7 linked regions of the Homo sapiens genome follow. The protein of the gene in region 5 purifies or fractionates together with the protein of the main gene of each other region. This does not show direct contact. Each region holds a gene or a part of one and is shown on either strand. Other genes may lie near its edges.

Region 1 (3,500 bases), about 16 Mb from region 5:
GATCGAGGTCTGAGCTGGACATATAAATTTGGAAACTGTCAGCATATCAATGATATTTAAAGGCATGGGAGTGGATAGTGAGTATAGATAGAGAATGCTGTTAAAATCTGGAGAGATGAGGAGGACCTGCCAGTGAGGTAAGAAAGAGTGGTCTCCTGGAAGCTAACTGAAGAAAGCCTATTAAGGAAAAGGGAGTAATCAGTTGTATCAGATGCTGTTTGATGGGTCAAGAAAATGAAGATAAAGAATTGACTTAGCAACATGAAGTTACTTGTGATCTTGAGGATAGCAATTTCGATGGAATGGTGGGAATGAAAGCCTGATTGCAATGGGCTTAGGAGAGAAATTGGCCACGATGAATACACTAGAGGTAATACTTTAGAGTTTTGCTGCGAAAGGCGGCAAGGAAAAAGGATAGTACCTGTTAGGGAAAGCAGAGTTCAGATTCTTTTAGTTTCGAAGAAATAATAGAGTTTGTGGTATGCCAATTGGAGTGATGCCATAGAGTACAAAGCTGATGGTGCAGAGGTGAGAAGGGAGGATTGCTGGAGGAATGTTCCTGAAACTGGGAGGATTTGGCGAGTCCAGGATTTGGTGAGGAGGGATGGGAATGTGATGCATATATGAAAGGGTTGCCTTAGGAGCAGGGCCATCCACCTCTGATCTTGTGGTGAGGTGGATGTAGGCAGGGTTGCATGAATATCTGTTCTTATAGAAGGTTAAGTGCTTATGCTTCTCACTGTGGAAAGTTGGAGGGCATCATTCTAGCTTTATATTAATAGATGGGAAAAATATATATACTGTGGTCTTTGGAGTTGTCCTGAATAAACAAACCTTTAAACACATTTTCTGAACCGGCATAAATTCCAAGGAGGTAGGTCTGTAGCAGATCCACTACGGTAGTGTAGAGAGGAGGAAGGGCACAGGTTATTTTTAAAAATTAGTGTTTGACTTTGGAATACTTAAAGAAAAATTTGGTTTCCATACTATATTTGATTACACTAAATTAAAATAAGCTTTCTTTGTGCACACTTCTGTAGGTGGCAGGAAAAATGCTACCTCTTTTTTTCCCTTTTTATTTTTATAGAAGCCAATGGTATGGATATATCACAGTTTAAGTATTGCCCCACTGATGAACATTCAATTTCATTCCTTCAAAAACTGTAGAGTCCTACCATGTAGCAGACATTGTACTAGGCCCTCTGGTTATATAGTTATGAACAAAACAGATGAATTCTTATGGTGCTCACAGTCTTATGTAGGGGTTATGATAATAAAAACAAAAGAAAACAGTGTATCAGGTTGTTTCATGATTTTTAAAAATAATGATGCTCTGTGAACTTCCTTGAGTAAATCTCACTGTATCACGGGTAGCTCAAACTCACTTTCCCAAAATTGAACTTAGCATCCATGAAACCAATCCTGCTGGGTCCAGTGGCATGTGCTTGTTGTCCTAGGCACTTAAGAGGCTAAGGCAGGAGGAGCACTTGAACTCAAAGTTCAAAGCCAGCTTGGGCAACCCTGTCTCAAAAACAAATAAACAAAAAACAACTCTTCAGGTACTCAGATCTCTGTGTTATTTCTTTTCTTTTTCTTTTTCTTTCTTTTCTTTTCTTTTTTTTTTTTTTTTTTTGAGACAGGATCTCAATATGTCGCCCAGGCTGGAGTGCTGGAGTGCAGTGGCATGATCACGGCTCACTGCAGCCTTGATCTGGGCCCAAGCCATCCTCCCACCTCAGCCTCCCTTGTAGCTGGGACCACAGGCAAATGTCATCTGGTTCGCTAAGGTGGATGTCTGCCTAGCTTAGCCCTCAAGCTTCTAGAATAGCCCCTTTCAACTAGGTTCCATGAGAATTAATTTCTTTTTTTTTTTTTTGAGACCGGAGTCTCGCTCTGTCACCCAGGCTGGAGTGCAGTGGCACAATCTTGGCTCACTGCAAGCTCCGCCTCCCGGGTTCACGCCATTCTCCTGCCTCAGCCTCCCCAGGAGCTGGGACTACAGGCGCCTGCCACCACGCCCGGCTAATTTTTTGTATTTTTTAGTAGAGACGGGATTTCACCGTGTTAGCTAGGATGGTCTTGATCTCCTGACCTTGTGATCTGCCCGCCTCGGCCTCCCAAAGTGCTGGGATTATAGGCATAAGCCACCGCGCCTGGCCAAGTTCTTTTTTTTTTTTTTTTTTTTGAGACGTAGTCTCGCTCTGTCACCCAGGCTGGAGTGCAGTGTTGTGATCTCGGCTCACCGCAACCTCCACCAATCGTTCAAGCGATTCTCCTCCTTGGCCTCCCAAGTAGCTGGATTACAGGCACATGCCACCATGCCTGGGTAATTTTTGTAGAAACAGGGTTTCACCATGTTGGTCAGGCTGGTCTTGAACTCCTGACCTCAAGTAATCTGCCCGCCTCAGCCTCCCAAAATGCTGGAATTACAGGCATAAGCCACCGTGCTCGCCCAGAATTAAGTTCTAATGCCCTTTTTTTTTTTTTTTTTTTGAGACGGAGTCTTACTCTATTGCCCAGGTTGGAGTGCAGTGGCGTGATCTCGGCTCACCGCAACCTCTGCCTCCCAGGTTCAGGCGATTCTCCTGACTCAGCCTCCCGAGTAGCTGGGATTGCAGGCATGTGCCACCACACCCAGCTAATTTTTGTATTTTTAGTAGAGACGGGATTTCACCATGTTGGTCAGGCTAGTCTCAAACTCCTGACCTTGTGATCTGCCCACCTCTGCCTCCCAAAGTGCTGGGATTACAGGCATAAGCCACTGCACCCGGTCCAGGTGAAACATTTCAAACATGGCTCAGTAAATATTGCCTGATTCTCCCAAGCAGTCTTCAACACTCACATATCTTCCACTCTCTCCCTTGTTTATGATTCTCAGCTCCAGCCAAAAGGGCCAGTTGGTTTCTTAGCCATGCTATGTACATATTTGAATTTTTGCCTTCCAGGAAGAGCATCCATTCCTCTCTGCTTGTTTGAGTCCCACCCTTAAAGTTAGTCAAGTCCAGCTTTTCCCCTAGAGGTTATTCCCACTTTTAGGTTATGTCCTCACTTCTGTTCATGCTGTCTGGCACATAATTCAGCTTTTGGCACAAGTGGTGCTCAGTGCTTGGTGGTGGTGTTGACAATTGAGGCTGGGGGCCAAGACAGGAAGTTCTTGGGACATTTGGGCTCCTGGGTATTGTCTTAAGGGTCTCTTTTCCCAACAGAGGTCCCCCCTATTGGAAGTAAAGGGGAACATAGAACTGAAGAGACCTCTGATTAAGGCCCCTTCCCAGCTGCCTCTCTCAGGAAGCAGACTCAAGAGGAGGCCTGACCAGATGGAAGATGGCCTGGAGCCTGAGAAGGTGAGCTGGGCATGGAGAGCTGTGCATGTGTGTGGGGGGTGTGTGTGTGTGAAAGAAAGGAGAGAGAGAGTATAAACCATTAGGGAGGGTGACTATGGACCTTGTCTTTATCTTTCCCCAGAAACGGACAAGAGGCCTGGGTGCAACGACCAAAAT
Region 2 (3,500 bases), on a different chromosome or scaffold from region 5:
AGTCAGACCCATAACCTCTGGCCTGGTTCCCCAGCCCCTCATGTGTGTCAGTGGCCCAAAGAGTACTACTAGGAGAGGCCGTAGTTCTATGCTCTCTGGACCAGGAACTATCAGCCTTGTTTCCCAGTACCCCCTCAGAGTGCTGCACATGATCAGAACAGGATTGACTTCCACCAATCCATAAGTAGGGGTTGGTCCCAGAGTCAGCCCCACAGCCAGAAGAGGATCTTGACTGTGTAAGGGCACCCCTCACAAACCACAGAGTATAACTGAGTTTGTACGCATCAACTGGAAATTTCCAGCCTGATGGACCACCGTGATTACACCATTGTGATCATCAGTAAGAACGCCCAACAACATCACGGCTATGGCAGAAGCTCTCTTAAATGAGCTGTCCTTTATTCGGTAGACACTGAACCACTAAACCAATGATCTTAAAACACAGGGCAGACAAAAATTATAGATGGCTTCAGCCAAGTAGACACTAATCATGAAGGCAATGGAGAGGCCAGAAAAGACTCAGGACAAGGACTAATGAAATCTACCTAGTCGTGGGATGTGAGGAAAGCACCCTGACTACAAGGAGAAAAAGGGCATCTGTGCGAATGGATTAAGATCAGGAGAAACGGCTAGAATTTCAACCTAGAGAGCTTTGCCAAAGGATATCTAAGGCCTTGTCTACCTCCAAACAAGGGTGGATTTCACAGTGATTGAGACAGAGATGGAGACCTGAGCTATCTGGCCATGGGCCAGACCTGTTGACTCTAGTGGGGTGCACTGAGGAAGAATGTCCTTCCACATAAATGTTTACAAAAACACCTCCTAAGAACTAAAATTAGGAACTTTCATCACCAATACTTGCCTCATATCTAACTTCTCACTTCTCAGTATCATTTTTTTTTCCTTTTTGAGTCTTTACTATGTTGCCCAGGCTGGTCTCAAACTCTTGGGCTCAAGTAATCCTCCTGCCTCAGTCTCCTCAGTAGCTGGAACTCCAGGCATGAGCCACTGCACCCAGTTCTCAGCATCATGTTTAATACTTAAAGTGCAACCTAGCAGGCCCCCGCACAACAGTGTCTCCATTTTTCACTGATGACAGTTATGACTGATTATTAGAATACTTCATATCTATTTAAGAATTTACAAGTCATGAACATTCTGATATACATCCTTCTCACTTGCTCTTCCTCCTCCTCACACCCTTGGGAAGTAGAGAAAATAGAATTTGAATGAACTTGTGTGAGAAAACCCAGAGCCCAGAAGTTGAGTAACCCCAAGGTCCTGTAGTAATAAGGAGGCACAGTCAAGTTAAGGAGTCTGCCATTGTTTCCATCACATGCCCCTAAAAAACAACCACTACAGAGTTCTTCAAGTCAATGGGAAGAACACTCAAGTCCCACATCTACAGAACTATGGCCACACTGACACTCATGCAAGCAGTTGATATTTACCAGTAGAAAGCTGGGCTGCTGCAGGTGAGGGAACGCCATAGCAGCCTCCAGTGGAGAGTTGAAAATGGCCTTCTTAGCAAACCACTGTGGAAAAACAAAGACAAAATCTCAACATCTGTAACACAGCAGAATCTTTTTATATTATTTTTTTAGAGACAGGGTCTTGTTCTGTTGCCCAGGCTGGCATGCAGCAGCACGATCATAGCTCACTGCAACCTCAAACTCCTGGGTTCAAGCAATCCTCCCACGTCAGTCTCCTGAGTACAGGCACGTGCCACTATGCCTGGCTAATTTTCTTCTTTTTTGAGACAGGGTCTCGCTATGTTGCCCAGGCTAGTTTGTCAGGCTGTGATGCCCAGGATCCTGGCCTCCACTGATCCTCCTGCCTTGGCCTCCTAAGTGTTGGGGTTACAGGTGTGAGCCACTGCACCTGGCCCTAACAAAATATTACATAGTTTCACAATGCCCAGGAGAATATCACACATTACATTACCAATTCGCAACACACATTACATTGCCAATTCTCATGTCTTACTTATTGATTAGAGACAGGCTCTTGCTTGCTCACTCAGGCTGCAGTACAGTGGTGCGATCATAGCTCATTGCAACCTCAAACTCCTGAGCTCAAGTGATCCTCCTGCGTCAGCCTCCCAACTAGCGGGAACTACAGGCAAACATCAACAAGCCCAGCTAATTTTTGTACTTTTTGTAAAGATGGGGGTTTCATCATGTTGCTTAGACTGCTCTTGAACTCCCAGACTCAAGCGAACTATCCGCCTCAGCCTCCCAAAGTGCTGGGATTACAGGTGTGAGCCAACACGCCTGGCCAGCAATTCCCATCTTTTATAGAAATGCTGTTCTCAGCCGGGCATGGTGGCTCCCACCTGTAATCCTAGTACTTTGGGAGGCTGAGGCAGGAGGATCACCTGAGGTCAGGAGTTCAAGACCAGCCTGGCTAACATGGTGAAAACCCGTCTCTACCAAAATACAAAAATTAGCCGGGCATGATGGTGGGTGCCTATAATCCCAGCTACTCAGGAGGCTGAGACCCGAGAATCACTTGAACCCAGGAGAGGTGGTTGCAGTGAGCTGAGTCACACCACTGCACTCCAGCCTAGAAGGCTGAGCAAGACTCCATCTCAAAAAAAAAAAAAAGAAAAAAAGAAATACTGTTCTCCTGCAGCCCATAGTGGCCAGCTTCAGAGCCAAGTTTGTAGTACTGAATCCTCGGTAATGCTTGTACAGCATTTGTTATATACCAGGACTCGCTCTAAATGCTCTCTATATATCTCCTCATTTAATCCTCAGTGGTAGGCAGAATTCTAAAGATAGCAGCCCAAGATTCCCGACCCCTGTTTGTTCAATCAAATACTCATCTAGGTACTGCTATGACGGCATTTTGCACATCCAATTAGAGTCCTAAGTTAGTGGACCTTAAGTTACAGAGTAGTCCCCAGCTGACAGCCAGCAAGGAAACAAAGACCTTAGTTCTACAACTCCAAGGAACTGGATTCTGCCAGCAACCTAAATAAACCTGGAAGCAGCTTCTTCCCTAGAGTCTCCAGATAAGAGCAAAGCTACCAACACCTTGATTTTAATCTTGTAATGCCTGGACTTCTGCATACATAACTATGAGATAATAAATGGATGCCGGTTTAAGCTGCTAAGTTTGTCATACAAGAATAGAAAAACCAACCTCACAACAACCCGATGGGTACAGATGTACTATGACTGCAGGTCAGTACAGATGATGAAGGAGAGGCAGAAATGGGATAATTCACTTACCCCCACCCAGCTAGTAAGTGGCAGAACCAAGATTCCAATACAAACACCACCTCACAAAACTGAGACAGGGGCAAATCCCCTCCATATTACCTGTGCACTATGCAATGAACGGAGGGGAAGAGCAAGCTCTGCCAAGGGAGCCTTTGAATAAGCCATGAGAAAACTAGGATCAAAGGCCGGGCACCATGGCTCACACCTGTAATCCCAGCACTTTGGGAGGCCGCGGTGGGCAGATCACTTGAGGCCAGGAGTTTGAGACCAGTC
Region 3 (4,203 bases), on a different chromosome or scaffold from region 5:
AGAACAGACCCACCTTTTCTTTATCATTTAGAGTTTGGCCCCATTGCTGTAAAGGTCATAAACAAGTTGAGTGTTGAGAAAGTGAAGTAGAGTTAGCATTTTGCAAGATTGCTGTCCAGCTATAAATTTAGAAACATACTGATTTCTTAGGATGGCAGTAGCTTTTATGGCAGCAGAGTCAGACCAAGTCCTGGGTTGATACATTTTTTGGTTTTAAAAAAACCTAGAAACGGCCACTTCTTAGCTTAAAACAGTGAAAGTGGTGAGCGTCCCACACTGTGAGCATTGCTTAGTTCCTCAGACTGACTGTCCTTGCCCTGGCGGCAGGTGCCCCTGACCTGACCCCACTTCGACCTCCAGGCCGGCTCAGCAGAGTGGCTCTTTGACTTTGGAAATTAAGAAAGAGCATAGAGAATCTTAGGCCATAAGCATTTCCTGGATGCTTGTTGAGCATTCCTCAAAAGAACGAGCTGTGCTTCGTCATTTTTTTTTTTTTTGAGAAATTTTATGAGGAATAGTATTTTTTAAAGAGCACATAGTAAACTTTGTAGCTGTTTATAAGGGCTGAAGGGAGATGGGGATCTGGGGAGTTTACCTGTGAGTGGCTTTAACATCAGCTATTTGAACTCAAGAGATTGGTATTTGCTTTTTAGGAACAGCAGTACCTCTTTTGTTAAGAGATTGATTGATTGAGAGTTTCGCTGTCTCCCCCAGGCTGGAGTGAAGTGGCACAATCTCAGCTCACTGCAACCTCTGCGTCCTAGGTTCAAGTAATTCTTGTGCCTCAGCCTTCAGAGTGGCTGGGATTACAGGCGCCGGTCACCATGCCCTGCCAAATTTTTTTTTTTTTTTTGTATTTTTAGTAGAGGTGGGGTTTTACCATGTTGACCAAGCTGGTCTCAAATTCCTGAGCTCAGGCAATCCACCCACCTTGGCCTCCCAAAGTGCTAGGATTACAGGCATGAGCCACCACACCCAGCCTGGGAAGAGATTTTTTTTAACGGAGAATGTTTAAGAGAATGTAAAATACAGAGTTCTTAATTTTTCCAGTTTTACATTTGAGGGTAGGGAGGAAATGTTAATTCTTAAGAGTAGGACCTGCCTATCCAGGTCCTTAATCCAAATACTCTGGAGCCTTCTCGGGACAGGGAACACCACATCTGCTTCTGAGAGCAGCCACAGTTGAGGAGGCTGGTGTTTATTCCAGTGCCCAGCAAAGTTTATTATTAACCGGAAGACACATTCAGTCCATTTTTAGCAAAAGAGGAGGTTTCAGGTTAAATGTTTGGGTGTCCTGCCCGCTGGTTTTCTTTATTAGTTTGCATCTTGATAGATGGCCAGATGAGGGTGGATGTGCCTGGGATGCATCTTTTTGTTTTGTTTTTATTTCGAGATAGGGTCTCTCTCTGTTGCCCAGGCTGGAGTGCAGGGCAGATAATAGCTCACTGCAGCCGAAAACTCATGGGCTCAAGCGATCCTCTCGCCTCAGCCTCCCGAATAGCTGGGATTACAGGGTGCGCCACCACACTCGGCCTGGGACACCTCTCTAGCAGAGTGGTGCAGCGTGTGCTCCTTAGATCGCACATTTTCATCTTTGTATGCTGCCTTGTAAGGAGACTGAAGGGGCTTCTAGACCCTGCTACTCAGGGAGGCCAGTGTGGGAAAAGATTCGGGTGTAAGTCTCAAGCTTGTGTGTCACATACACTCTGGAAAAGATGATTCTCTTACGGGAGTGGGCAGCAAACCTGGTCAGAGGAGCTTTGCCTTGAGCCAGTCTAGCCGTGGGGGAGTGGGGAGGGGCATGCTCTTCCCCTTGGCGTGGGAGTGAGCTGGGGAGTGGGAAGGGCCTGAACTGGACAGGCCCACACCGGTCCTCCTGCCCTTCATTAGCCACATGACACAGCACCTTGTTAGCCAGTTGGAAGGATTTTGGTGTCCTTTGTGCCACTGAGAAGTTTAAATGAGATAAAATACAGAAGAACAGCTTCTGTCTCCCTGGCCTCCTTGAGAGCCTGGTGCGTGCCAGCTCCTCCCTCTGAGTGCAGAGAATTTCACATTGCTAAGTGTCTTTCCATGTGGAATGATAGTGGCACATGAGGGAAAGACAGCTGTGGGAAGTGAGGCTTCCCAGCAGACAGGTGGCCCATGTGACCGTTGTGGTTGATGCTTTTCTCCTGGTAGAGGGGGTGGGGAGAATGCCATGCCCAGTGTGGCCAGTCCCCCACAGAGCAGGCCCCAGTGCAGCTCAGAGTTGTGTGCTGGTGTGGCTTGGGTACCATTCAGGGTCCCGCCTCCAGATTTGCAGGTGCTGCTAAGGGGCAGCCTCGGATCTCACTTTTGGGAGGGATTCATTGGTGTGGTTACTCTGCGTTCAACTTTTGTTTTTTCTTTTTACAGGAACGGCAGAGTCGAAACAAACAATGAGGGCGAACCAGTTTCTTACATGTTCTAACGTTTGACTTTGAAAACAGTTTAAAACACGTGTGCTTGGTCAGCTCCAGTGTGTCGTCCCGTGCGGGGGTTGAGTGTTGCATCTTTGCCTTTCTTGTCGTTGATTTTTGCCCAGATGGATCTGCATTTATTTGTACTTTTTCTATGTATTATAATCCTGTAGAAGTCACTAATAAAGGAGTATTTTTTTTGTCAGCTTATCAATCAGACTGATCTAATGTGAAATGTAAGTATCCTTAAAAACAAAGCATCTATTTTGGCAGAAATTGTGTTCTTAAATTCAGTCATTTGATATTCTGTGAGACTTCATATTTCTCATCCCTTTATTGCTTTTTAGCAAACATAAGAAACCATGAGTCATTTTGTCATTTAGAGTATTCTGATAAAATCTCTTGAAAATACTGAAATCAAAAGGTTAATGATTTTTTGTTCATTCTGATTTGTCATTTTATTATCTGTTATCGGTCTAAAGTGCTAATTTACCCATTTGATTTTTCTGCTAGACAGATAACTTTTAATTTTTCAAATTTGGCAGACACTTTTTTTTTTTTTTTGAAAATCTTTCCTTCCAGATCTGTTGCCCACTGAACAGCCACCCGTCCCTCACTGTCCTGGTGTCCGATTGGGCTGGATGGTGTTGGGGCATGATGTGTGGAGGAACTGGAAGGTGCTTTAGGTCTGGTTCAGGGTCGGGCATTCTTTGTTGTTTGCACATCTTTTTAAATTTTACACCTTTTCTTAAGAATTCTAATGCCGTCTTAAGTTTTTATACCAATAATGCTGAGCTTTAAGTGTAGGATCTGGTAGTACAGACAGTGTGATGGATGATGCTGCTGGTTGTAAATTTCATCGTGTGTGTCTAATTTTTTTTCCTGTTGAATGGGTAAAAACAAAACAAAACTTTTTTTAGAAGATGAATTTGCTGTCATGTTTTGTGGAATGAGGGACCGTTGAGCTCACTACCACCTGGAGTTTGAGTTGAAGCATGAAAATGGTGCCCATGCCTGACGCTCCAGCGCCTGGATCTGCACGTGCCCTTGTAGAGGATCCTTACCGTCCTAGAGAGCAGACGCTTTCTGAAAACTACTTGCTCCAAAAGACCCTCTGAGTTAACGTTTCAGCTGTATCATTAGACTTGTATTTAGAGCGTGTCACTTCCTCTGAACTGTTACTGCCTGAATGGAGTCCTGGACGACATTGGGTTTTTCCTCTAGGAGAATACAAGCCTTAATAAACAATACTATTTAGCAAACTTGGTGTCACCTCATTCTTCACCCTACTTGATGAGTTTATGTGTTGGAGCTTTTTAAGCTGCAGAGCCATTCGGGGAGTCACCGTAGAAAGCCCTGTGTTTCTCAAGGTGTGGGATTCTCGTTCCCTCGCTTTGGAAGAGGGAGCTGTTAATTTCCTTAAGACTATAAACTACATGGCACCGTCACCCACCCCTCATCACATGAATGTGCAGACGCAGCGGTGCGTGCAGCACCTGGGCACCGCTACCCCCTTTCTGGACTTGGCTCCTCACCGTCTCTCTCCATTCATCCTCCAATGCCTCTTATTATTTATGCAATAAGAGTTTAATACCTGTTTAGTTTGTTTTCCTTTTGAGGTAAAATTTATAAGCAGTGAAATGCACATTGTGTACATCTGCAGAAGTTGACAAGTATGTGATAAAGTTATGCAATATTAGCCTCAGCCCAGAAAATCCTGAGCTCAGGCAATCCGCCCGCCTTGGCCTCCCAAAGTACTAGG
Region 4 (3,500 bases), on a different chromosome or scaffold from region 5:
TAAACCAATAATTTTTCTCCGTAATGACAGTTCTGAGAAGAGTCTAAAATGAAATTTTTTCTCTCTTGCAGACTTCAGTACATTAGAATTTAGTAATGTATAAAATATAGTAATATTATTTCCTGTCACCATGAATCAACAAGACATAACCATAGCCTTTTGACAGTCTGGTTAAATATTTAACACTGTGATTACTATAACTTTCAGGTTCTCTCTGATAAATAATTGTAAGGAAAATAAAGACAATTCTGATATTTCAAGGATTTGTTTTTTTAACTAGAGCCTAAACTCAAAAATTCAAAGAACTATTCTCCAGTAAAGGATGGAAAAAATCTGAATTGTATTGTGCCCCAGTATAGCTCAGAGACCTAACAGTTATGAGTGGGGGCTGAGGTACTGTTTGTAGGGGTATTGCTAATCTAGTGAAGGAGAATGATTCTAAAGATTATTTTTGCCAAATTCTTTATTCTTGCATGGAAATAATCATTGTTGCTTTGATATGCCATCTCTTTATTGCCCTTATACAGGGCCAACATGAAAGTAAAGAGTGGTTATGAGTTTTTAAGGGAGAATTTCTCTGTAAACCATTCTTGACATTGGGTTTATACTATTAGGAATGCTATTGTTTCTATATCCAGACTCCCTCACTCTTTTGCTTTTATACCAAATGTTAGATTTAGAGCTATTATACAGCATCTTGATCTTTCATTTTTTTATTCCAGTGACATTCCGTAATTAACATGAATATAAAGATGCAAAAAGAACAAACATTTTATCTCCAGATATTATAGTGCAAGGGAAGGTGCTTTCACTTATGGTAACATTTCAACATGGCTTCATATTAGAAACTGCAGTGATGCTTCAGATACAGAAATTAAACTTGGCAGTTCTCTGCAGCAGTGGTTCTCAAACCTTAGCATGCAATCAGGACTACATGGGGTGCTTGTTAAAACACAGAATTCCAAACCCATAGAGTTTCTGCTTCAGGAGGCCTGAGCTAGAGCCCAATAATCACATTGAGAACCACTATTCTAGCACTGGTTCACCCTTTTCTTCTGACATAGTTTTCTAAGTGTATAGAGTAATTTATAGTTCATAACCTTGATGCTCTGATACGGGATCATAAGTACAAATTCAACAAATATTTTCTTGATACATCTTTTTTATCACATGAAAGTTTGTTAAACCAAGAGTATTGTTGAGAGAGAAGTTAAAAGCAGCAGTTTAATTAAGTGAGCAGCAAAATGCTGAAGATGGGAATAATGTGCAAAAGAATACCTTATCACTTTATGTTGCCTCTCTTGGCTCAGAGACCTTGAATGTGAGCCTGCTTGTTATTGTCTAAAACTGAACAGTGTATCTGGATAAAATACATGAAGCAGCATATTCCCAGTGCTTTGTGTTTTCTGAAAATGCTTACTGTCAGTATGTTTTATTGAGTAAATTAATCCTTTTTTTCTACAGGTGATGGGCCCCAGTGTAGAGATTATGTCATAAGTCTTGGAGTTGTGAAACCTTTACTTTCCTTCATAAGTCCATCTATTCCTATAACATTCTTAAGAAATGTTACTTGGGTTATGGTCAACTTATGTCGCCACAAAGACCCACCACCACCAATGGAAACCATTCAGGAGGTAAACACTTTTAAAAAAAAATTAAAAGAGATACCATTATATATATATTTTTTATTTGTGTATGTTTTTAAATCTACATATTTCTCTCCTCAGATTCTTCCAGCCCTTTGTGTTTTAATTCATCACACAGATGTAAATGTGAGTAAATGTGTCCTATTATATATTTATGTATGTATGTATGTATTTCTAGGGCTTCCCCTGTGACATAGGGGAGAAATATTATACTAACACATTGTGTCAGCATACTATCAGATTTTCCCATTTCAAGAGTTATTTTATATTAGATTAGTTATTTTATAATATTTTAATATTTACTCTATGTTTATCTATATCACAAAATATAATACCAGTTAAGAAATCAAGCATAACTGTTATTTTGGTGTGGACAATATTGTATGTATGTGTATATATTAGTGTTATAAAAACTGACATTAAAAGTTTTTAAAGTTGCCAGATAGTGGTGATTTCTCTTACTAAGATCATGTCTTTAATTGTTCTTGTGCTTTTTACAGAAGGTCATTTTGACAGTTTGGCCAATGAAAGCACACACAAATAGTGCTATTTTTGTTTTTTGAAAGATGAAAAAGGAAAATGTTTGTGCATGGATTTGTATTCATATACACATACCAAACCATGGACATCAATTGCCCTTTAATTCCATTTTTATTCTATTTCTCAGTTACAGTGACTGGCAGTGGCTTCATTTATCAAGATAACTTGATTATCCAAACAACAGGAAAAAAAAATCAGTGCAGGCAAGATTTTAAACATAGCAAATATATTTTGCTTATTTTTACTAACACAGATGGCAGAGGAAAAAGCAACTCAGGGAGTATGAATGAGGTGGAAAACTGCCCTGAGTGCTTGTAAAAGCCAGACCAGCCTTTGGTGTGTTAGAGAAACCAGGAATATAATGGGTAAGGGAAAACACATGAATGAAATGTTTAGCAACAATCAGGAACTCATGTGGTTCTTTAAAAACAGTTTGGCATGGTGACCAGTGTTGGACAAGCTGCTTCATTTCTTTACAATTTAAAGGCCTATGCCTTTTGGCCAGAATTTAATTTGTATGGAACAAATTAAAATTAGAATTTTACTGTATCAAACAGTGACATAATATATAAAATTCATTAGATGAACATGATCTCTGTGGTAGAGTTTTTGTTTGTTTTTAGCCCCAGATAGTTTAGGATCTTAAAAAATGTGTAAGTAATTTTTGGTTTTGGCTCCTTAATAGCCAAGTTCTTTGATTAAATTGTGAATTTCAATATTTTGCTTTGAAAGATTTACAAGAGGCCAGGTGTGGTGGCTTATGCCTATTGTCCCAGCACTTTAGGAGGCTGAGGCAGGAGGATCACTTGAGTGCAGGAGTTCGAGACCAGCCTGGGCAACATGACGAAACCCTGTCTCTATGAAAAATACCAAAAAATTAGCCAGGCATAGTGATGTGCACCTGTAGTCTCAGCTACTCAGTGGCTGAGGCAGGAGGATCTCCTGAGCTGGGGAGGTCAAGGCTGCAGTGAACTGTGATCATGTCACTGCACTGCAGCCTGAGTGACAGAGCAAGACCCTGTCTCAAAAATAAATAAATAAATAAATAAATAAAACGATTGGCAAGAAAGATTTAACTTCAAAGTTTATACCTCTACTAGAAAACAAGACATCTTGGTTGACTTTATTTAGAGATAGATTGTGTTCTTTCCACCTATTTACTCCAATCTAGATGAGACTGTGACTCCATTTTCTTGCCTTTGATGTATCTTGAAGAATTTCTCAAGCCTGTTTACATTGTTCTTTTTAGTAACATGATTAACAAATAATATTGCTTACTAAATAATGTGTTAGAAGTTTGATTTGAATTATGAT
Region 5 (3,500 bases):
TTGTAGTGTAATGGAGTCAGCCTGAGTTTGGATCCCTGTTCTGCCTGGACTTGGACAAGTTAATTTACTCATCTGTAAAGTGAAAATTGTTGTGGAGGTTAAATGGGACAAGTGAAGATTTTAGAACAGGACCTGGCATATGTATATAGGTAAGGAGTTATTAAAAATTGAGTCCTTATTATATATATGCAATTGAAATTTGAAATTAAATAGAACTGTTTGATTTAGGATCTTTTTTTTTGTGGGAGACCACAGTTTTATTATTACTCAAATTAGTCTCCTGATTTAGGGTCTTCATATTGTCTCTGAATTTTCCTGCTTCTTATCAGAAGTTTTGTTTCCTTTAGGTGACTAAATTCAATACTTGCATGTATTAAATTGTTTAATGCAAAGTAGGTGTTTTGTTTGTGATGAGAGGTTTTGTGTGGTATTATATTAATTTACTTAATTTTTCTAATAAGTGACAAAAAAGTCCACTTGCTGTATCCATTTTCTGGGAAGTCCCTGACAAGGCAGATATCTTAGTTTGAAGTAAAATAAAAATTGTAGTCTGATGTCACTAATTAAAACTGTTTACTTTTCTTTTTTTTTGAGACAGAATCTAGCTCTGTCACCCAGGCTGGAGTGCCATGCTGTGATCTTGGCTCACTGCAGTCTCTGCCTCCCAGGCTCAAGGGATTCTCCTGCTTCAGCCTCCTGAGTAACTGGGGTTACAGGTGTGTGCCACCACGCCTGGCTATTTTTGTATTTTTAGTAGACACGGGGTTTCACCATGTTGGTGTGGTGGTCTCAAACTTCTGACCTCAAGTGATCTGCCCTCCTCGGCTTCCCAAAGTGCTGGGATTACAGGCGTGAGCCACCTTGCCCAGCCAAAACCATTTTCATTAGGCACAGAGTATTGCAAAGATTGTAATTATCTTGTATTTTCTTTTTTTTTTTTTTTTGAGACGAGTCTCGCCCTGTCACCCAGGCTGAAGTGCAATGGTGCGATTTCGGCTCACTGCAACCTCCGCCTGCCAGGTTCAAGCAATTCTCCTGCCTCAGCCTCTGGAGTAGCACGCACCATTATTCCTGGCTAAGTTTTTATATCTTTAGTAGGGACGGGGTTTCACCATGTTGGCCAGGCTGGTCTTGAAGTCCTGACCTTGTGATCTGCCTGCCTCAGATTCCCAAAGTGTTGGGATTACAGGCTTGAGCCACCACGCCCAGCTAGCTTGTATTTAAAAAAAAAAAAAATTATTTGTAGCTATTTAGCTTATCTTCATGGTTGTAATATATTTTTAAAAGATTCTTCTGTGTTGGGAAGTTTGGTTTCAAGTCTTGCTGACACATACCATTTACTGTCAGAAACAGGATGATAGGATGCCTTTTCTATCTATAGATATTTCAGTTTGCTTGATTTTGCATATCTTTTTCTTAGTGTGATTTAAGAAACAAACTCTTACTCCCAATTTTCAAACATGTTACCTGAGAAAAAGTGTGATAGTATCTTGTAGGTAACTTTTAGTGAGTTTAACTACTGTGAGCTTTTATTGAGTTTTCTTTTTTTTTTTTTAAGACAGTGTCACTCTGTTGCCCAGGCTGGAGTGCAATGGCACGATCTTGGCTCACTGCAACCTCCGCCCCGCTCTGGGATTCAAGTGATTCTCCTGCTTCAGGCTCCCAGCTCTTTTTTTTTTTTTTTTTTTGAGACAGAGTCTTGCTCTGTCGCCCAAGCTGGAGTGTAGTGGCGCGATCTCGGCTCACTGCAAGCTCTGCCTCCCGGGTTCACGCCATTCTCCTGCCTCAGCCTCCCAAGTAGCTGGGACTACAGGTGCCCACCACCACGCCCCGCTAATTTTTTGTATTCTTAGTAGAGATGGGGTTTCACCATGTTAGCCGGGATGGTCTCAATCTCCTGACCTTGTGATCCGCCCACCTCGGCCTCCCAAAGTGCTGGGGTTACAGGCGTGAGCCACCACGCCCGGCTGCTCCCAGCTAATTTTTGTATTTTTTCGGTAGAGACAGGGTTTCGCCATATTCCCCAGGCTGGTCTCCAACTCCTGGACTGAAGCAGAACCCCTGCCTTGGCCTCCAAAGCACTGAGATTACAGGCGTGAGCCACGGTGCTTGGACCTGAATCTAGTTTCAATAATCTGAATTTAACATCCAAATCTAAGACATTATTGGTTGTATTTTATAAGCCTATGCCATTCAGCAGCGAAGTTTACCCTATCCAATCAGTCCAAGTCCTCTAGCCATTTAAAGTACTTTTCTAGCTGAAGAATTAAAAACCTGCTCCCTGGGAGAATAAGATTCCAGAACCTTAAAACTGATGATGGACTGCATTTGATATTTATAGTTAAAGATCCAGTGAAACTATTTGAGAAAGGAGATTTTATAATCTGAACACTGCTAAGGATAATGTGAAGAAAAGGGAGTTGAACAGAACTGAAGTCAAGAAAACTAGTAGGAAGAAAAGAGCTTTGTATAGAAGGAAGGAAGGATATATAGGAATGACAAGGAGTTGGCCATACTGAAAAGATGCCTCTGGTTATTCCTGTGAAAAGGTTTATAAGAAAAGAATGTCGTTAATTACAAGTGAGTTCTGAGTTAGTGTTATAGAATAGCCTTCCCCCACCCCAGCTGTTTCTGAGTTAGTGTTATAGAATAGCCTTCCCCCACCCCAGCTGTTTCTGAGTTAGTGTTATAGAGTAGCCTGCCCCCACCCCAGCTGCCTTTCATTAATCCTTTTTTTTGAGATGGAGTCTCGCTCAGTCGCCCAGGCTGGAGTGCAGTGATGTGATCTCGGCTCACTGCAACCTCTGCCTCCTGGGTTCAAGCAATTCTCCCTCCCTCAGCCTCTCAAGTAGCTGGGATTACAGGTGCCTGCCACCACGCCTGGCTAATTTTTGCATTTTTTAATGGAGACAGGGTTTCGCCATGTTGGCCAGGCTTGTCTTGAACTCCTGACCTCAGGTGACCTGTCTGCCTCAGCCTCCCAAAGTGCTGGGATTACAGGCATGAGCCACTGCGCCCAGCTCATTAATCCTTCAACTCAGGTTAAATATAATTTGAAAAGCTAATGTATTCACAATACCTTATACGTTGAATGTTCCTGATATGTATGTAGTATTGAATTCTAATCCCCAGATTGAATTTTTAATTAGTCTAAATCTCAGTGGCATTTTTGACATGTTTTGCCAAATGAAGAACCCTTCTTTCTTGGAGAGAGAATACCCAGTGGATTTAGCCAGTTCACATTCTAAAATTCACTCCTTTAATCCTTGAACTTAAATTTATTATTTATGATTATGAAGTGTGGACTTTGCTTTAGGGCCACAGAGTATTTTTTAAGATTAATTTTTTTTTTTTTGAGACGGAGTCTTGCTCTGTAGCCCAGGCTGGAGTGCAGTGGTGTGATCTGGGCTCACTGCAACCTCCGTCTCCCAGGTTCAAGTGATTCTCCTGCCTCAGCCTCCTGGGTAGCTGGGATTACAGGCGGACACCACCTGCCAGCT
Region 6 (3,500 bases), on a different chromosome or scaffold from region 5:
GATGTGCAGAGACCCCACCCAGCTGGAAGGTTTCCTGTAGCTCATTGAATCCTACCCTCTGGGAATCACAAAGTGGGCAGAAACTCCTCTCAAAGCACTCAGGCAGCACTGGCACAAAAAAAAAAAAAAAAAAACTAGACCCTAGGGCTTCACCCCAGGCAGTGATGCATTATGGTTAGGACCACTGACTTTCCGACATGGGTTCAAGTCCTTGCTCTGCCACTTTCTAGCTGCTGGGCAAGTCACTTAATCCCGCAGTTTGGATTATCAACTTCTTAAAATGGCGGCAGCCAGAGCAGCGTCACCCTCTCTGGGCTGTGTGAGGATGAGATGAGATAATGGCCTGGCAGCATTTGAGGGAGGTGGCTGTGGTTTCCTCTGTCCTGGGACCCCGGAGGGGGACAGGGAGGAGAGAAAAGCCAGCACCAAACTGGGAGGGGAAGTGTGGACCCACGCTCAGACAGTGTCTGTCTTTTGCAGACACGAGGGCCGCTGCCTCCCGCCGCGTTCCTGGCGCCCGCTCCTGCCAAGGTGCCTGCGGGCCGAGCCCTCCTGACCAGAAAACCCGACCAGGTGGCTCCGCGCCCGGGGCGCCCTCTGTGCTGCCAGCGCGGGCTCCTCAGCGGTGGCCACATCCTCGGGGGAGGGGCTGGGCGCCATTGGCTGCCCGGGGCTGCGGGTTGGGGGGCCGCCTTTGGCCCACAGAGAGCCCCGGGCGCGCACCTCCCGCAAATGCCGCTGTCCGCTCTTCCTCCCGCCCCTCCTGCCTCTCCACTGGATGGTGGAGGGAAGAGTCCGTTTCTGCAGTGGATTTGCCCGGGAGCTGAACTTATTCACTGGCGGACGGCTTGGGCATGGAGGAGGGCTTGGATGGAGACTGGGGATTGTTCTCTGACCCACGTAGTCTCCCTTGCTTTCGGTGCAGATTCTGCTATTATAATTAGCTTTCTGCGGGGCAAGGTGGCTCACGCCTGTCAGAAGATCGAGACCATCCTGGCTAACACGGTGAAACCCCGTCTCTACTAAAATACAAAAAATTAGCCTTGCGCGGTGGCGCGCGCCTGTAGTCCCAGCTACTCAGGAGGCTGAGGCAGAGGAATCGCTTGAACCCGGGAGGCAGAGGTTGCAATTAGCCAAGATCCACCACTGCACTCCAGACTGGCGACAAAGGGAGACTCCGTCTCAAAATAACAATAACAATAATTAGCTTTCTTTTCTTTTTCTTTTTTTTTTTTTTTTTGAGATCAAGTATCACTCTGTCGCCCAGACTGGAGGCGGCAGTGGCACGATCTTGGCTCACTGCCACCTCCGCCTCCCAGGTTCAAGTGATTCTCCTGCCTCAGCCTCCTGAGTAGCTGAGATTACAGGCTACTGTTGGCAAGGCTGGTCTCTTAACTCCTGACCTCAAGTGATCCGCCCGCCTTGGCCTCCCACAGTGCTAGGATTACAGGTGTGAGCCACCGCACCCAGCCCTTCTTGCCCTCTCCACCAAGATTCATTTCACAGTATCCAGTGTCTCCTTGTTTCCCTTTCTCCCCTTTCACGTGAATAATGTGCTCAGTTCTTAATCTCCACAAAAATCCTGTGAGAGAGGTACTTTTGTTGTCCCCATTTCACAGATGACAAAACTTAGAAAGTTCATACTAACAGTCTGTGGCAGAGCAGGGGCTTCTGCACAGGTTTGTCTGATCCCAGAGCCTGTGACCTCTCCTCGCTGTCGTCATCCTCTACACTCAGGGTCTATCTTCTTCACCCTTCAGTCTCACACAGGTCCCACAGCACAGAACCCGGCTTGGTGCTGACACTAGGCCAGGGCGACGTGGGCCAGCTGGGGCTGGGTGAGAATGTGATGGAGAGGAAGAAGCCGGCCCTGGTATCCATTCCGGAGGATGTTGTGCAGGCTGAGGCTGGGGGCATGCACACCGTGTGTCTAAGCAAAAGTGGCCAGGTAGGTGTTGGGGACTGGCACAGGGTTGGACAAGGCCTGGGGTTGGGTGGCTTGGGGCAGGGCTTTTGAACCACGCATGTTCACTGTGGAAATGGAGCTGGCTAGTCAAGTGGGGAGTGGCCTACATGAGAATGGACTGCGAGGCCAGACGTTGCATTAATGAGGGCATCCTGGGCACAGGTCTATTCCTTCGGCTGCAATGATGAGGGTGCCCTGGGAAGGGACACATCAGTGGAGGGCTCGGAGATGGTCCCTGGGAAAGTGGAGCTGCAAGAGAAGGTGGTACAGGTGTCAGCAGGAGACAGTCACACAGCAGCCCTCACCGATGATGGCCGTGTCTTCCTCTGGGGCTCCTTCCGGGTAAGGCTGGGTCTGAAAGTCTGCATGGTCCCTGAAAGACAGAATTAATTGGCGGGGCCCCAAAGATAATCCACTTCCATGCCCCCATGGTACTTACTGGTGGGGAGATGAAAGCCCACAGGTAGAGCTGAGGCCCAGACCCAGGACTCTAGCTTCCTCATGTGGGCCTGTCCACGCCACTGGCTGCTTCCTTGAATCCGATGTCATCAAGTGTCTGTCCTGGGAAGTGAGTGGGTCAAGGATGTCCCTGGGTTGAGGCTGATCCAGGAGGCCTGCTGTCTTCACCCATCTCCCTGACTTCTGTCTCCCCCTCACCTTGCCAGCACTGCCTCTTCCACACTTCCCAGAGGCTTGGATGGGGCAAGGAGGTGTGGAGGCAGGGATTGTCGCATCTCAGAGTTTCCAAGGTACAGAGGAGTGTAGTTGAAAAAACAGATTGTGGGTTTTTGTTGTTGTTGTTGTTGTTGTTTTTGTATTGTTTTGAGATGGAGTTTCACTCTTGTTGCCCAGGCTGGAGTGCAATAGCGCAATCTTGGCTCACTGCAACCTCTGCCTCCCAAGTTTAAGTGATTCTCCTGCCTCAGCCTCCCAAGTAGCTGGGATTACAGGCATGCGCCACCACGCCTGGCTAATTTTGTATTTTTAGTAGAGACGGGGTTTCCCCTGTTGGTCAGGCTGGTCTCGAACTCCCGACCCCAGGTGATCCACCCGCCTCAGCCTCCCAAAGTGCTAGGATTACAGGCGTGGGCCACCACACCCGGCCTGATGGGTGTTTCCTTATCACATCTATTTTGAAATTTTCATGGAGAATTTCAAACACATGAAAGTAATCAGAATTGGGCTGGGCGCGGTGGCTCATGCCTGTAATCCCAGCACTTTGGGATGCCAAGATGGGCAGATCACGACGTCAGGAGATCGAGACCATACTGGCTAACATGGTGAAACCCCGTCTCTACTAAAAATACAAAAAATTAGCCAAGCGTGGTGGCGGGTGCCTGTAGTCCCAGCTACTCGGGAGGCTGAGGCAGGAGAATGGCTTGAACCCGGGAGGCGGAGCTTGCAGTGAGCCAAGATCGCGCCACTGCACTCCAGCCTAGGGGACAGAGCGAGACTCCATCTCAAAAAAAAAAAAAGAAGTCCGGGCGCAGTAGCTCATGCTTGTAATCCCAGCACTTTGGGAGGCCGAAGCAGG
Region 7 (3,500 bases), on a different chromosome or scaffold from region 5:
CATATCCTCAGACCTATAGATGGAGGAAAATTTATTGGCAGTTGATGGTAAAAATAAATTCAAAAATCAAGAAAAGTCACATCTCCTAACTTTTAAAAGTCAGAGTGCCCAAATAAGTCTTATAAACAGGCAAATTCTGGATTGTTACTGAGATTTTTAAGCGATGATATTTTTTATTATAGCTACTCTGCTCAGTGCATCTTTAAATAGCACTAGGTTACAGATGACATCACTTTACAATGTAATACCCCAAACTAATGAACTAATAGACTAAAATAATGACCTCAAAAAGTGAACTTGCTAATTTCTTTCTTTGAGGAATTCCCCTTCTTCAGACATAACAGAAACATTTGTAGAACAGAAGTAAGCAACATAAGAGAATGAACTAAATACATAACTTCTAACTCTTCCTTTGTCATTAATTAATACATGGAGATAACAGTGCAAAAATACCATCAGGCACTGAAACTCCTGTTTCAAGTTCAAGTCTGCACTTAAGCTTTCCCCCCATTATTTAGAGTTTGCATAGCAATGGACACTCAGAGATAAGAGGAAAGAAAAATCAGATTAGCTGCCCTCAAGGACCTCACAAACTGGCTGAAGGAACAAGTTATATAGGCACAGATAAAACATGACCCAAACAAAATCCCTCCCTTTTGCAAACCTTGTTCTTCCTTTTGCATTTCTGATGTTAGCCAAAGGCATCCTAACAGCCCAGGCAAGAAATCTTTAGCACATTTAATTTATAAGCTTAAGTGTAAGAATATTTTACATTGTTAACATGAAAAACACAATGAAAGCCTATATAATGGCCGGGTGCGGTGGCTCATGCCTGCAATCCCAGCACTTTGGAGGTGGGTGGATCACAAGGTCAAGAGATCAAGACCATCCTGGAAAACATGGTGAAACCCTGTCTCCACTAAAAATACAAAAATTAGCTGGGCGTCGTGGCGTGCACCTGGAGTCCCGGCTACTTGGGAGGCTGAGGCAGGAGAATTGCTTGAACCAAGGAGGCCGAGGCTGCGGTGAGCAGAGATTGTGTCACTGCACTCCAGCCTGGCGACAGAGCAAGACTCAGTCTCAAAAAAAAAAAAAAAGGAAAGCATATATAATATAAAAGACAGAAAATAACATAAAAGCACATAAAATGCCAAAACACTTGTTAAATTCTCTTATCATGTATATATTCAGTGATTTCAAATATTGCTCATATGCCGTGTCAACATAGTCTGTTCCTTAAGCAGTGAGCTCTGCTTTTCCAGAGCCCTGGGAGGTACAAGGCCTTCCCAAACTGGAGACAGAGTCAAAGTGGAGAGCGCACCCTCAGGCAGCTCTGTATTGTTTTACTTTCTATCAGGGCTGCCAAGTCAAAATATCGTTCTATATGGCCCACCAATCAGAGATTGATTTTGGTTAACCAGCTCGTCCCAAAACACAAATACTCCTTAGACAGGTAACTTGTCACCCCCAAGTGGAAGGACAGGTAAAAAGAAAGAAAAACTACTATATGCATATAGCTATTGTATTCTCTTTTCATGATCATTATGACACGGGAGAAAACCTTTATAACTACACCCCAGAGAAGCTAAAGACCAACGAACATCATGAGAAATGAAGATAAATAGTGACAGGAACAGTCCTAAACATTACCATTTTTCATATGGAACATTCTTTTGAGGAGCCAATCACATTTTTAGTTTTGCTGTATCATATTCCTAAAATATTATTCTATATGTATCCAACTGATAATTTCCAGACCCTTCTCCAATAATTCAGCTAACTGAAACATGTACATACACTAAATTGACACTTATACTTTGCCCTTTGATCCAAATGCAGAATAATGAACCAGGCTCTTGCTCAGTTCTTACAAGTAGTCTGTAATTAATTTTAAAAAATTGTCTTATCATATAAAATTATATATGAATAAAGACCAAAAAGGACACAAAAATGACAACAACTTGATTTGTTAGATCATGAAACTTGAGGTGATTTGTTTTTCTTTCAGATTTCTGGCATACTGTCTAGATTAAAAACAAAACATAACAAAGTGCTTTTCCTTCCATTCCCCAGGAACTAACCCAAATGCATAAAAGCAAAGAATTCACACTAAACACATTTATGGAATCAACAGGAAGACTGAATTTAGGTTATAGTACATCAAACTTAGGTTACAGTACATCAAACATTAAGAAAAAGAGACTTGTCGGCACAGTGTGCTACATGTTAGAATACAGCTAGGCTATAGGAGGAAGGAAGCAAAATTTGAGACACCAAATAGAGTTTGAAGTTCCTCAAATGCATAAGGAATTCCAAATTTCACAGAGCTCAGGGAAGAGCTGGCCCTGTTTCTAAAACCAGATAGTTCTGCAGTCTCAGTTAAGACAACAGGTCTAAGTTCTAATGTCACACCTTTAAAGGGAGACAGCGAAGTCTGCCTTGCTGCCTCATCAGGCTGTGAAGCTTCACAAAAGCACGAGGACTGCGTCACTATTTCCACAATGTCCAGCTGCCACTGGCTGCCCAGCATCTTAACCATTTCTGTCTTTGAAGTTTGTAGCAGACTTTACTTTTTCTCTGAAAATAAATCTGATTCTACAAGCAAGGTGTAGCAACAGGATCCTAGGAGGTAGCTGAGGAGTTCAGTGAAGGTACTGTTTGCAAAGGTGTGGGCAAGATTAAGGGGTCCAAAAAGGGATGGGGCAGCACCCTAGGATGAGGCATTATCAACCTCAGGCCTGAAGAGGCACAAGGAGGGGGCAGCTACTGGAAACACAGAGAAAGCAGTTGGACAGGAGGCACAGTCCCTGACAGAGGGGCACAGCCAATGTAAAGTGCGCACAGGCAAGGAAGAAAGCTGGCAGAATAACTACTCCAACTTCTGGCCTTATGGCAGGGCCTCACATTCATCTGACCTGGCAGAAGCCGGAGGGCAAGGGAGCCCATTCAGGAAGGCCACCTTGCTGTGGCAGAGTCAAGAGTAGATCTGCCTGGCCAACAAGGGTGAAACCAGGTCTCTACTAAAAATACAAAAATTAGCTGGGCATGGTGGCACATGCCTGTAGTCCCAGCTACTTGGGAGGCTGAGGCAGGAGAATTGCTTGAAGCCAGGAGGCAGAGGTTGCAGTGAGCCGACATTGCACTGTTGCACTCCAGCCTGGCAACAGAGCAAGACTTAGTGCCCCCTGCCCCCAGAAAAAAGAGTAGATCGAGAGAGACAAAGGAGAAGATCAGGATGGATGCAGTAGCTCACGCCTGTAATCCCAGCACTTTGGGAGGCTGAGGCGAGTGGATCACCTGAGGTCAGGAGTTCGACATCAAACCCCATCTCTACTAAAAATATGAAAATTAGCCGGGGTGGTGGCTAGCACCTGTAATCCCAGCTACTCGGGAGGCTGAGGTAGGAGAATCACTGGAACCCGGGCAACAGAGTGAGACTCCATCTCAAAAAAAAAAAAAAAGAAGATCAGCATGCAAAGCAAATAGGTACTTGGAGACAG

Evidence for each region.
Region 1: the proteins of NUP153 (region 5) and KIFC1 purify together in Homo sapiens (affinity purification with mass spectrometry; 2 studies listed by BioGRID and IntAct, with this or other methods). This does not show direct contact.
Region 2: the proteins of NUP153 (region 5) and SMPD4 purify together in Homo sapiens (affinity purification with mass spectrometry; one large-scale study listed by BioGRID and IntAct). This does not show direct contact.
Region 3: the proteins of NUP153 (region 5) and YTHDF1 fractionate together in Homo sapiens (co-fractionation; one large-scale study listed by BioGRID). This does not show direct contact.
Region 4: the proteins of NUP153 (region 5) and KPNA4 purify together in Homo sapiens (affinity purification with mass spectrometry; 2 studies listed by BioGRID and IntAct, with this or other methods). This does not show direct contact.
Region 6: the proteins of NUP153 (region 5) and RCC1 purify together in Homo sapiens (affinity purification with mass spectrometry; one large-scale study listed by BioGRID and IntAct). This does not show direct contact.
Region 7: the proteins of NUP153 (region 5) and NUP133 purify together in Homo sapiens (co-immunoprecipitation; 3 studies listed by BioGRID and IntAct, with this or other methods). This does not show direct contact.

The regions. Positions count from the first base shown.
Region 1 is NC_000006.12:33,394,823-33,398,322, forward strand, and holds part of KIFC1 (kinesin-like protein KIFC1), read left to right. Parts: intron 1-3,206; coding exon 3,207-3,344; intron 3,345-3,465; coding exon 3,466-3,500. UniProt on the Homo sapiens protein: Minus end-directed microtubule-dependent motor required for bipolar spindle formation. May contribute to movement of early endocytic vesicles. Regulates cilium formation and structure.
Region 2 is NC_000002.12:130,175,103-130,178,602, forward strand, and holds part of SMPD4 (sphingomyelin phosphodiesterase 4), read right to left. Parts: intron 1,536-3,500; coding exon of another isoform or gene 1,491-1,535; coding exon 1,452-1,490; intron 1-1,451. UniProt on the Homo sapiens protein: Catalyzes the hydrolysis of membrane sphingomyelin to form phosphorylcholine and ceramide. It has a relevant role in the homeostasis of membrane sphingolipids, thereby influencing membrane integrity, and endoplasmic reticulum organization and function.
Region 3 is NC_000020.11:63,194,929-63,199,131, reverse strand, and holds the end of YTHDF1 (YTH domain-containing family protein 1), read left to right. Parts: intron 1-2,397; coding exon 2,398-2,424; 3' UTR 2,425-3,703; downstream 3,704-4,203.
Region 4 is NC_000003.12:160,524,072-160,527,571, reverse strand, and holds part of KPNA4 (importin subunit alpha-3), read left to right. Parts: intron 1-1,464; coding exon 1,465-1,634; intron 1,635-1,727; coding exon 1,728-1,772; intron 1,773-3,500. UniProt on the Homo sapiens protein: Functions in nuclear protein import as an adapter protein for nuclear receptor KPNB1. Binds specifically and directly to substrates containing either a simple or bipartite NLS motif.
Region 5 is NC_000006.12:17,696,926-17,700,425, reverse strand, and holds part of NUP153 (nuclear pore complex protein Nup153), read left to right. Parts: intron 1-3,500. UniProt on the Homo sapiens protein: Component of the nuclear pore complex (NPC), a complex required for the trafficking across the nuclear envelope. Functions as a scaffolding element in the nuclear phase of the NPC essential for normal nucleocytoplasmic transport of proteins and mRNAs.
Region 6 is NC_000001.11:28,530,043-28,533,542, forward strand, and holds part of RCC1 (regulator of chromosome condensation), read left to right. Parts: intron 1-480; coding exon of another isoform or gene 481-573; intron 574-1,760; coding exon 1,761-1,948; intron 1,949-2,128; coding exon 2,129-2,308; intron 2,309-3,500. UniProt on the Homo sapiens protein: Guanine-nucleotide releasing factor that promotes the exchange of Ran-bound GDP by GTP, and thereby plays an important role in RAN-mediated functions in nuclear import and mitosis.
Region 7 is NC_000001.11:229,466,842-229,470,341, forward strand, and holds part of NUP133 (nuclear pore complex protein Nup133), read right to left. Parts: intron 1-3,500. UniProt on the Homo sapiens protein: Involved in poly(A)+ RNA transport. Involved in nephrogenesis.